2 separate regions of the Homo sapiens genome follow, and region 1 is linked to region 2. Evidence: fine-mapped expression QTL. A gene starts in region 2. The other region holds a variant in brackets. All regions are shown on one strand. Distances are between the middles of the regions.

Region 1 (4,394 bases), 22 kb after region 2:
TGTTGAATAACTGATGAGTATTTACAAAGGTAGAGATGAGGTATAACAATTGTAGATTTAATTCTAGATAGGTAGAGCTGAAAATTCCCTAGAAATTTATAGCCACTCATGACTACCTGCATGCATGCATTTTGGATGTTTTTTGTGGATGCATGCGCTTTTGCTTGATAGTGAATTTAGCTAATTCTGTATTTATGAACTGGCATACTTTTGTGGATCTTGATTTCTTTTTCCCCCAACTTCTAGTTTTATAGACTCACAGATGGAGAGGAACCAGATCTAAAGAGCCTCACCTGCACCTGGATCTTATTTAGATTTTGAAATTCTGAATTCAAGCACACATTGCAGTGGGATGAGACTCTTAGGAACCTTAAGAGGGGTGAATATATTTTCATGTGGGAGAGGCATGAATCACTGGGAATCAGGGCAGACTGTGGCATATTGATTCTAAAAATGACCTCCGTAATCCCTGCCTCCTGGATTTAATCCCTTCCCTTGAGTGTAGGTGGGACCTGCGACTTGATTCAATCCACAGAATACAGCCTGCATGACAGAATATGTGTGATTACATGTAAGTGATTACATTACATATGATTGTAACATCAATCTTTCCAGGAGACTCTACTTTGCTGGCTTTGAGAAAACAAATGATTCTGGAAAGATTAATATGGCAAGGACCTAAGGAACTCCTTCAGCTAATACCCAGCAAGAAACAGAGGCCTTTAGTCCAATGGTCCACAAAGAAACAAATGCTACTAACAACCACATGAGCTCGGAAGCAGATCCTTCCCCAGTCGAGTCTCAGAAAAGCCTGCAGCCCAGATGACATCTTGATCACAATTTTGTGAGGCCCTAAGACAGAGGACTCAGTCTAGTTGTGTCTGGAATCCTGAACCTCAGAAACTGTGAAATAATAAGTTTATGTTGTTTTAAGCCAGCAAGTTTGTGATAATATTGTTACACAGCAAAAGAAAAAACTAATATAAAGTTTAACAATGCCTCGAGTGTTTACTGATCCTGTGACAAGGAAAGTAAGAAGAAACAGAACAGAAGACTTTGTCCATGATCCTTACTGGAATTGTTAACTTGCCTGCTTCTACACTGCCAACCACAGGAGTAGAGACAGCTTTAGCTTTCATTACATGAAAAGTACTGCCAACTTGGGTAATTCAATATAAGACCAGAGCCTTCAGGGAGCCAACAAAGAAAAATACATCTTATTTAAGGAGAACGACCAGTCAAAAAGAAGAATATAAGTCAAAACTAACAGAACATTTATTAATCAGGATAGAGTAGCTGAAAAAGATAGACAACATCTTGAATTGTAAAAAATAGTAAAAGTGAGCTAGGCATGGTGGCTTTTGCCTGTAATCAGCTACTTGGGGGCTGAGGTGGGAGGATCACTAGAGGCCAGGAGTTCAAGACCAGCCTGGACAACATAGAAAGACCCAGTCTCTGCAAAAATTTTTAAAAATTAGCCAGACGTGGTGGAGTGTGCCTGTGGTTCTAGCTACTCAGGAGGCTAAGGCAGGAGGATCCCTGGAGCTCAAGAGTTCGAAGCTGCAGTAAGCTATAATCACACTACTGTACTCCAGCCTGGGTGAGTGAGCAAACCCCAACTCTTAAAAAAAATAGTCAAAGAAGCCTCACTTTTAGTAATGGTGCAATAGCTTGATTGAACTTACTCTCTTGCAGATAAAAAATAGTAAAATCTTCACAAAATATAAAAAACTTAAGGTACTAAAGAATGACCCAAAGCAGTCAAACAGCGGTGAGAAGTGACCCTTGCACCAGTAAAGATCTTTTATTGTGATCTCAGATTTTTTTCTCATTTATTAATTCACTGCAAGAAGCCAGCTAGTCTCTGCTAAACCTCTAGGACTGGAGTTTGTTCATTCCCTCCCATGTCCTGGCCTTCCTTGAATCTTCTTTTCCTTATGGACCTAGGATCTCTATGTTCCTGCTTCATTGGCCAAATCCCTGGCCCTAGTAACATGGCCCTTGCCCCGACTGTGGTTGTTTTTTTCTTTTTTTCTTTTTTTTTTAAACTTAATGGTAATTTTATTTTCCTAACAGCTTTATTGAGATGTGATTCACATATGAAAATCATACATATTTGAGATGTACAGCTTGATGTTTTGGTATTGCAGCATGCTGTTCTTAACAACTCAAATGACAGCCATCTTTCTTTTCTACACATATGGCAACTTGGCCTCTGAGATCCAC[G/A]ATACCAAATTAGCACAGCTGACATGTATATCTGACAAATGACTGATATGCAGAATATTTAAGGAACTGCTTCAAATCAAAAAGAAAAGATAGACATTCAATAGAAAAAAATGGGCAAAAGACTTGAACAAGCACTTTTAAAAAGACAATATCTGAATGTGTTTAATAAACATGTAAGTATGTTCTCTGCATCATATTGAAGGTCAATGACCTATAAGACCTTACCTCTTTTATACCTCTTTGACTTCTTCCCCTATTGCTTTCTGCTCTTCTTATAACAGCTATAACTATAATTCCATCTACATCTCTTGGATGCTTGCTGATTTTCTTTTTCTTTCTTTCCTTTTTTTTTTGAGATGGAGTCTCACTCTGTTGCCTAGGCTAGAGTGCAGTAGTGCAATCTCGGTTCACTGCAACCTCTGCCTCCCGGATTCAACACCTCATACCTCATTCTCATACCTCATGCCACCTGATTCTCATACCTCAGCCACCTGAGTAGCTGGGATTACTGGTGTGTGCCACCACACCCAGCAAATTTTTTTCATATTTTTAGTAGAGACGGGGTTTCACCATGTTGGCCAGGCTGGTCTCGAACTCCTGACCTCAAGTGATCCACCTGCCTTAGCCTCTCAAAGTTCTGGGATTACAGGCATGAGCCACTGTGCCTGGTTCTGCTTGCTGTTTTTCCAAACACTAGACATGTTTTCACCTCAGGGCCTTTGAATTCACTGTTCCTTCTGTCTTCGATGCTCTTCCCTGAGATAATGTCATAGCTATCTCCTTTTTTCAAGTCTTTGCTCAAACATCACCTTTTTGGTGAACTCTTACCTGGAAGTCCCTCTAAAATTACTAACAACCCATTACCACCATCGGACACTCCTATATCCCTTCCCTTAGCACTCATTACCTAACATACTAACTGTGTTATTTATTTAGCTTGTTTACTACCTGTTTCTCCATCTAAAATGAGTGCCATGTGTGCATAGATTGGTGTCTGGGTTTTTTCCTTTTTGTTACTTCTGCAATATTTAGAACAGTGACTGACACATATCAGGCACTCAATAATTATTTGCTGAATTTCTCAATGTCTCGATTTGGCATAAGGATTTCATTTTCCCATGGTATATTTTCTTCTGTGGATTGATGGGCTAGTACTAATTTGCACGGGTGTCTTGGTGATTCACAATCATGATTTTAATGTCCCAGTCCCCTTTGGCTACAGGAGGTACTTGATCCTAGGTGACTAAGGCAGAAATAAATAGAATGTGTAGGACTCCTCTGGTGTAAAAAGTCATGGGTTCCAAAAGTTCATTTATAAGTCAATTGTTTGGACATCCTGAACTTATTTTCAGAACACGATTGGGCACAGCTAGTTAACTGCAGGGAGGCCTGAGGAGACTGGAAGGTGCCAGAACCTGGAACCAGATCTGCCCACTAGGACAGGACCAGCCCTGGAAGGACAGGAGCAGGTGCACTGGATTCTAAAGGTGTTCAGTGCAGCCGGCAGGGGACATTGCCCTGAAGGCAAGATTACAGGCAGCAGTCAGCATTAGAGAGGGCCCAGAGGAAATGGGGAGACCCTATTGGGAAGCAGAGTCTAGCAACTGGCAATGTAGGAGTAGTGATGGGCTGTTTACCAAAAACATCATTAGTGCAATAGTAACTGCAAAACAGAGAAAATATTTGTAATTCATATGTATCTGACAAATGACTCATATGCAGAATATTTAAGGAACTGCTTCAAATCAAAAAGAAAAAATAGACATTCAATAGAAAAAAATAACAAAAGACTTGAACAAGCACTTTTAAAGAGACAATATCTGAATGTGTCTAATAAACATATAAGTATGTTCTCCACAGCATTTGTAACCAGTCAAATGAAAGCCACAGTGAGATTTCACTACACACCCACCAGAATGGCTAATATTAAAAAGACAGGCAATACCAAATGTTGGTAAAGATGTGGAACAACTGACATTTTGTTATACTGCTGGTGGAAGTACAAATTGGTACAAATATTCTGTAAAATTATTGTTTTCTCATTACTGAAACTCTCAGGTATGCTATATACTCAACAGAAATGTTGAGAAATGTGTGCGTACGAACACCGAAAGGCATGTTTGAGAATGTCCATAGCAGCATATTTTGTAATAGCATAATCTGCTTCC
Region 2 (4,394 bases):
GACACCAATATGTGAGAAAATAAACTAAGCTTACTGAGACAATTCCCAAAGCAGATAAAAGATCAGACCTTGGAAATAAACTTCAGCTGTATCCTAGCTCTGCCACTTACTAGCTGTGTGACTCAAGAAACTTAATCCCTCTAAGCCTCAGTTTTCTCAACTGTAAAACAAGGATAATACAAATAATCTCACCAGAGGAATGCTGTGAGAATTAAATGAGATAATGCAGATAAAGTGCTTACCAGGGCCTAGTGTATAAATGCTCAAAAACACATTAGCTATCATTGTTTTTCTCAAGCAATGGTATTTCAGAGGATAACATTGCCTGCTTCCCCAACCATCTTGTTATTTTGCCAAGAAAGCAGCTTAGTACTCACTGCCTCAAGTGTGCAGGAACAAGCTGTAATGGCAAAGTAGCATGGGCTCTTCAGAACTAACGAGGTTAGGCTGGGCGAGGTGGCTCACACCTGTAATCCCAGTATTTTGGGAGGCCGAGGCGGGTGGATCACCTGAGGTCAGGGGTTAAAGACCAGCCTGGCTAACACGGTGAAACTCCATCTCTACAAAAACACAAAACTCATCCAGGCATTATGGCAGGTGCCTGTAATCCCAGCTACTTGGGAGGCTGAGGTGGGAGAATCACTTGAACCTGGGAGGCAGAGGTTGCAGTGAGCCAAGATTTCAATATTGCACTCCAGCCTGAGTGCCCAGCAAGACTCTATCTCAAAAAAAAACTAATGAGGTTAGACCATTTACTCAAAATCACCAGTAGTTCTACTTTTCACTATCAACAAAAAAGAATTTAAAGGCAGAAGAGCATGCTTATCTCACACAATGGACATTGTATCAATCTCTTAATATACCTAATTTTTCAGCTTTAATTTGATAAGTTCTCAACTACTTAATTTTTTACAAGACCAAAGTGATTAACCCATAGTTATTTCTGTAATTCTATTAGCTACCTGTGAATCAACCACTCCAGACACTTCTGTGCTGGCTTAAGCAGGAAGTAAGGCGACAAGTGAATAAGGAATAATGAAATGTTTTCATCCAACTGTTTGTTTACTGCTTTGGTCTGAACACTTCGCTCCAAGGTTTTTGCTAGCTGACTGAACAACGGTGCTTCAAACTGCTCAAAGGAAGGATCAATTCCAAGCAACTCTTCCAGGCCAGTACATCCTAAATTTCAAAAAAGGCCAGTTTATTTAACAATTCTTCGTAAGCAAATTCATCCCACCCCTCTTTTACAGTTTTACTTACCCCTAAGAAGTTTCTGAATTCTTTAAGTACATATAATTTATAATACAGTCCCAAACACTGATTTCTAGTTTTCAACTTTTAGAGTAAATCCTATCTCATCTACTAGAACAGAAAGTACTTCGTGGCAGGGAACACTTTTTTTTTTTTTTTTTTGGATATCCCCTACAATAACTAGGCCAGTCCTCTGAGAGGACTTCTCCGTCACCCCAGTCACTGCCTCCATCCCCCTTTTAGCTGTTCTTCTCTTTGACATATTAGTTGACCTCTCTAATTTTGTTTCTTCATCTGTGAAATCCAGATACCTCTACTCATAAACATTTCAAGCACCAAGCACCTGACTGTTATGTTCTCTTTCCCTTAAAAATATACATCAACATGCTAGAAACTGCTAAGGAAGAGGACGGGACAGAAGAGAAAACAAGGGGAAAAAAAAAAAACAGTAACATCCAGAAAACAAACGCTTCCAAGAGCTTTTCTAAGTTAAAAGATGGCTCACCAATGGCGAAGGCGGTGTCCCTGTCGATTGTGGCCGCTTCCTTAGGGTCAAATAACAAAGAAGCAACTTCATCTCTAGATAAGAGGCTGGCATCACTTTGAGGGAGGGCGAGTCGTTGCAGCTGCTGGGCTAAGGACGTCATCTTTCACGCCAGCGGAGTTTTAATGACACGGGCTAAAAAAACGTAAGCACTTTGATAAGTTTCTACGAAATTATAAGGCGCCTCGTAAACAAACAATTCTCTTCTGCACTCAGCACCGTCATGGACACACAACGCGGGTGTCCTGAGATTTGTGGACCCCGGAGATGCAAAGACGATGGCAGCAGCGTTAACAACTAATTACAGTAGCGGCGACCGCGCCAAGGCTTTCCTTCAACCCTGATTCCGCAGATATCCGGAAAACTCTTACCCTCCCTCGATATGCCGCCCCCATCCGCAGCCACATCAAGCGGCTCTGTGCCGCTTACCTGGAACTGGGAATTTGGGTATATCTTGGAAGGCAACAACTCTTCACAGCGCTTCCCACATGGTACCAAGGAGCCCAACCCTCACCCGGAAACCTAAGGCATGCTGTAGAGCAACTTCCTGCTGCAGGCGCTACGGCAAGTGAAGAGGTTCAAGCTTGCCGGGAATGCGACGAGACAGCTCCGCCTCCCGAGACGAAAGCCCGCCCCTCAGCCCGCCGGACTCAGGCTCAAGTCTGAGCTTCGCCTCTGTAGCTCCGGTTTAGCGGTCTGCTCTGCGGCTTGTGTCTGAAGCTTTCGGTCTCTGGATGGGCCTTCTGTGGGCTTTAAGGATCCGTAGCCAGAATCATTCATTCAGTAGTGATCCAGCCTTTACTAGGTGCCAGCAGCACCGCGTAGTGTTGAAAGCTATGGGTTGTGAAGTCACGTGGTTTGGGTTCAAATCCTGGCGCTGGCGCCTGTCGGCCGGGTTAACGCCACCAAATTATTTCATCTCTCCGAGCTTGTTACTCACTCTACAAAGTGGGAAGAGGCCGAGATTGTCGTGAAAGGAGCTTCTGCTCCTAGTGCAAACCGATCTATAAATGCTGGACTCCACCGCCCCAGAGCTTGGGGGAGATCTTGTCACTCCTCTATGTTTCCATTCCCGAGGGGTAAATGGCATATATTTTTTTCTTTCAAAACGAATCATAGTCAGGCGCGGCCTGTAATCCGAGCACTTTGGGAAGCTCAGGCGAGCTGATCACCTGAGGTCAGGAGTTCGGGACCAGCCTGGCCAACATAGCGAAACCCCGTCTCTACTAAAAATAAAAGAATTAGCCGGACGTGGTGGCGGGCGCCTGTAATCCCAGCTACTAGGAAAGCTGAGACAGAAGAATCGCTGGAACCCGGGAGTCGGAGGTTGCAGTGGGCCAAGATTGCACCACTGCACTCCACAGAGCGAGACTGTCTCAATAAATAAATTAATCGAATCCTGTTGAGGTATAATTTACAAACAATGGTTACACCCACGTCAGTGGAAGAGTTTGATGACTTTTAGCAAATGCATGTATAGGTGTAATGACCTCCCCAGTCAAAATGACAGTTTCCATCGCCCCTAAAAATTGTCTCTTGCCTGTTTGCGAAGATTCCCGCAACCACTGGTCTTGGCCTCACTACAGATAGTGTTGCGGAAGAGTATCCTTATGTATGAATATAGCTAATCTGTTTCCAAAACACCGGTATGCGCTAGAACTAGGATGAACTGACGTCTTCCAGACGAAGGAGTGAGATCTGATGCTCTGTCTTTTCTGGATGCATTAATTTCTCTGAAGAGCTCTGCGGGGCCAGGGGGTCAAGTCTTTCTGTAACCGTCTTCCCTGGAGAATGTCAGAAACACAGCTACAAATTTGGAGGCCCTGGTTGTCTATACCTCATGCAGATTCTCTCCCATTTACAAACAGAATCTTTTGTTGTTGGTTTGCTTTAAAAGCATTTAAAACAACCAAATATTTTCTTCAGTTATTAGTATTTCTACTGACTGTTAATAATCTTCTTTTCATGTGGTGTTGAGTGCCTTGCAGAGAATAACATGAAAATTCTAGTAGTACCTATTTCATTCTTACAAACATATCTCTCAAAGGAATTTTTTTTTTCTTTCTAACATGTCACAGGAGTTTTACCTTTACAGAAGCAATCAGCTTTCGGTACTTTAAAAGAAATGAACACCAGGTCTGTTTCATTGATAAGATAATTTGCTTTTTTTGCTTAAAAAATACCCTATATATTTTTTAAAAGCTTTATTTAAGTGAAACTTGAAAAAGTGCTACAAAGATTTGACTCAGTCCTTCCTATGTCAGCTGTGATGGTGTATAGTGCCATGCCGAATTTTACTTTGGAAAGTAAAAAGGAAAACAAGTCAGATGTTCATAAATGTAATTTTTTTTTAAAAAAAAGCTTTGGTTTTAAAAAAAATGTAATAATCTTGAATTATATATTTTTATCTGACGGACAGATGTACCAAGCTGGTATTTTCTTCATAGCCATTATCACTACTTGAAATGACCTGATTTGTCTGTTTGTTTACCTGTTTATTTCTTGTATTCCCTCACTATAATATTGGCTTCAGCACGTTGGCATAAAGCCCATCCCTAAGACTTATGGAGCCTGAGAAAGAGTACAGATGGACTCACTG

Evidence for each region. PIP is the estimated chance that this variant, and not a neighbour inherited with it, causes the effect.
Region 1: its variant is the best candidate, but not a certain one, in a credible set for the expression of HEATR1 in whole blood (TOPMed, PIP 0.52).

Annotation. Positions count from the first base shown.
Region 1 is chr1:236,624,334-236,628,727 of GRCh38, forward strand. No RefSeq gene overlaps it. Among named protein-coding and RNA genes, the nearest start is that of HEATR1, 22 kb to the left of the region's middle. The variant G/A (reference allele first, on the strand shown) is at 2,227.
Region 2 is chr1:236,602,198-236,606,591 of GRCh38, forward strand. HEATR1 (HEAT repeat containing 1) reads right to left here and starts at 2,319. Exons shown (of 45, transcript NM_018072.6): 1 at 2,225-2,319; 2 at 1,757-1,930; 3 at 963-1,179. The coding sequence starts at 1,898. RefSeq lists an enhancer at 2,260-2,519.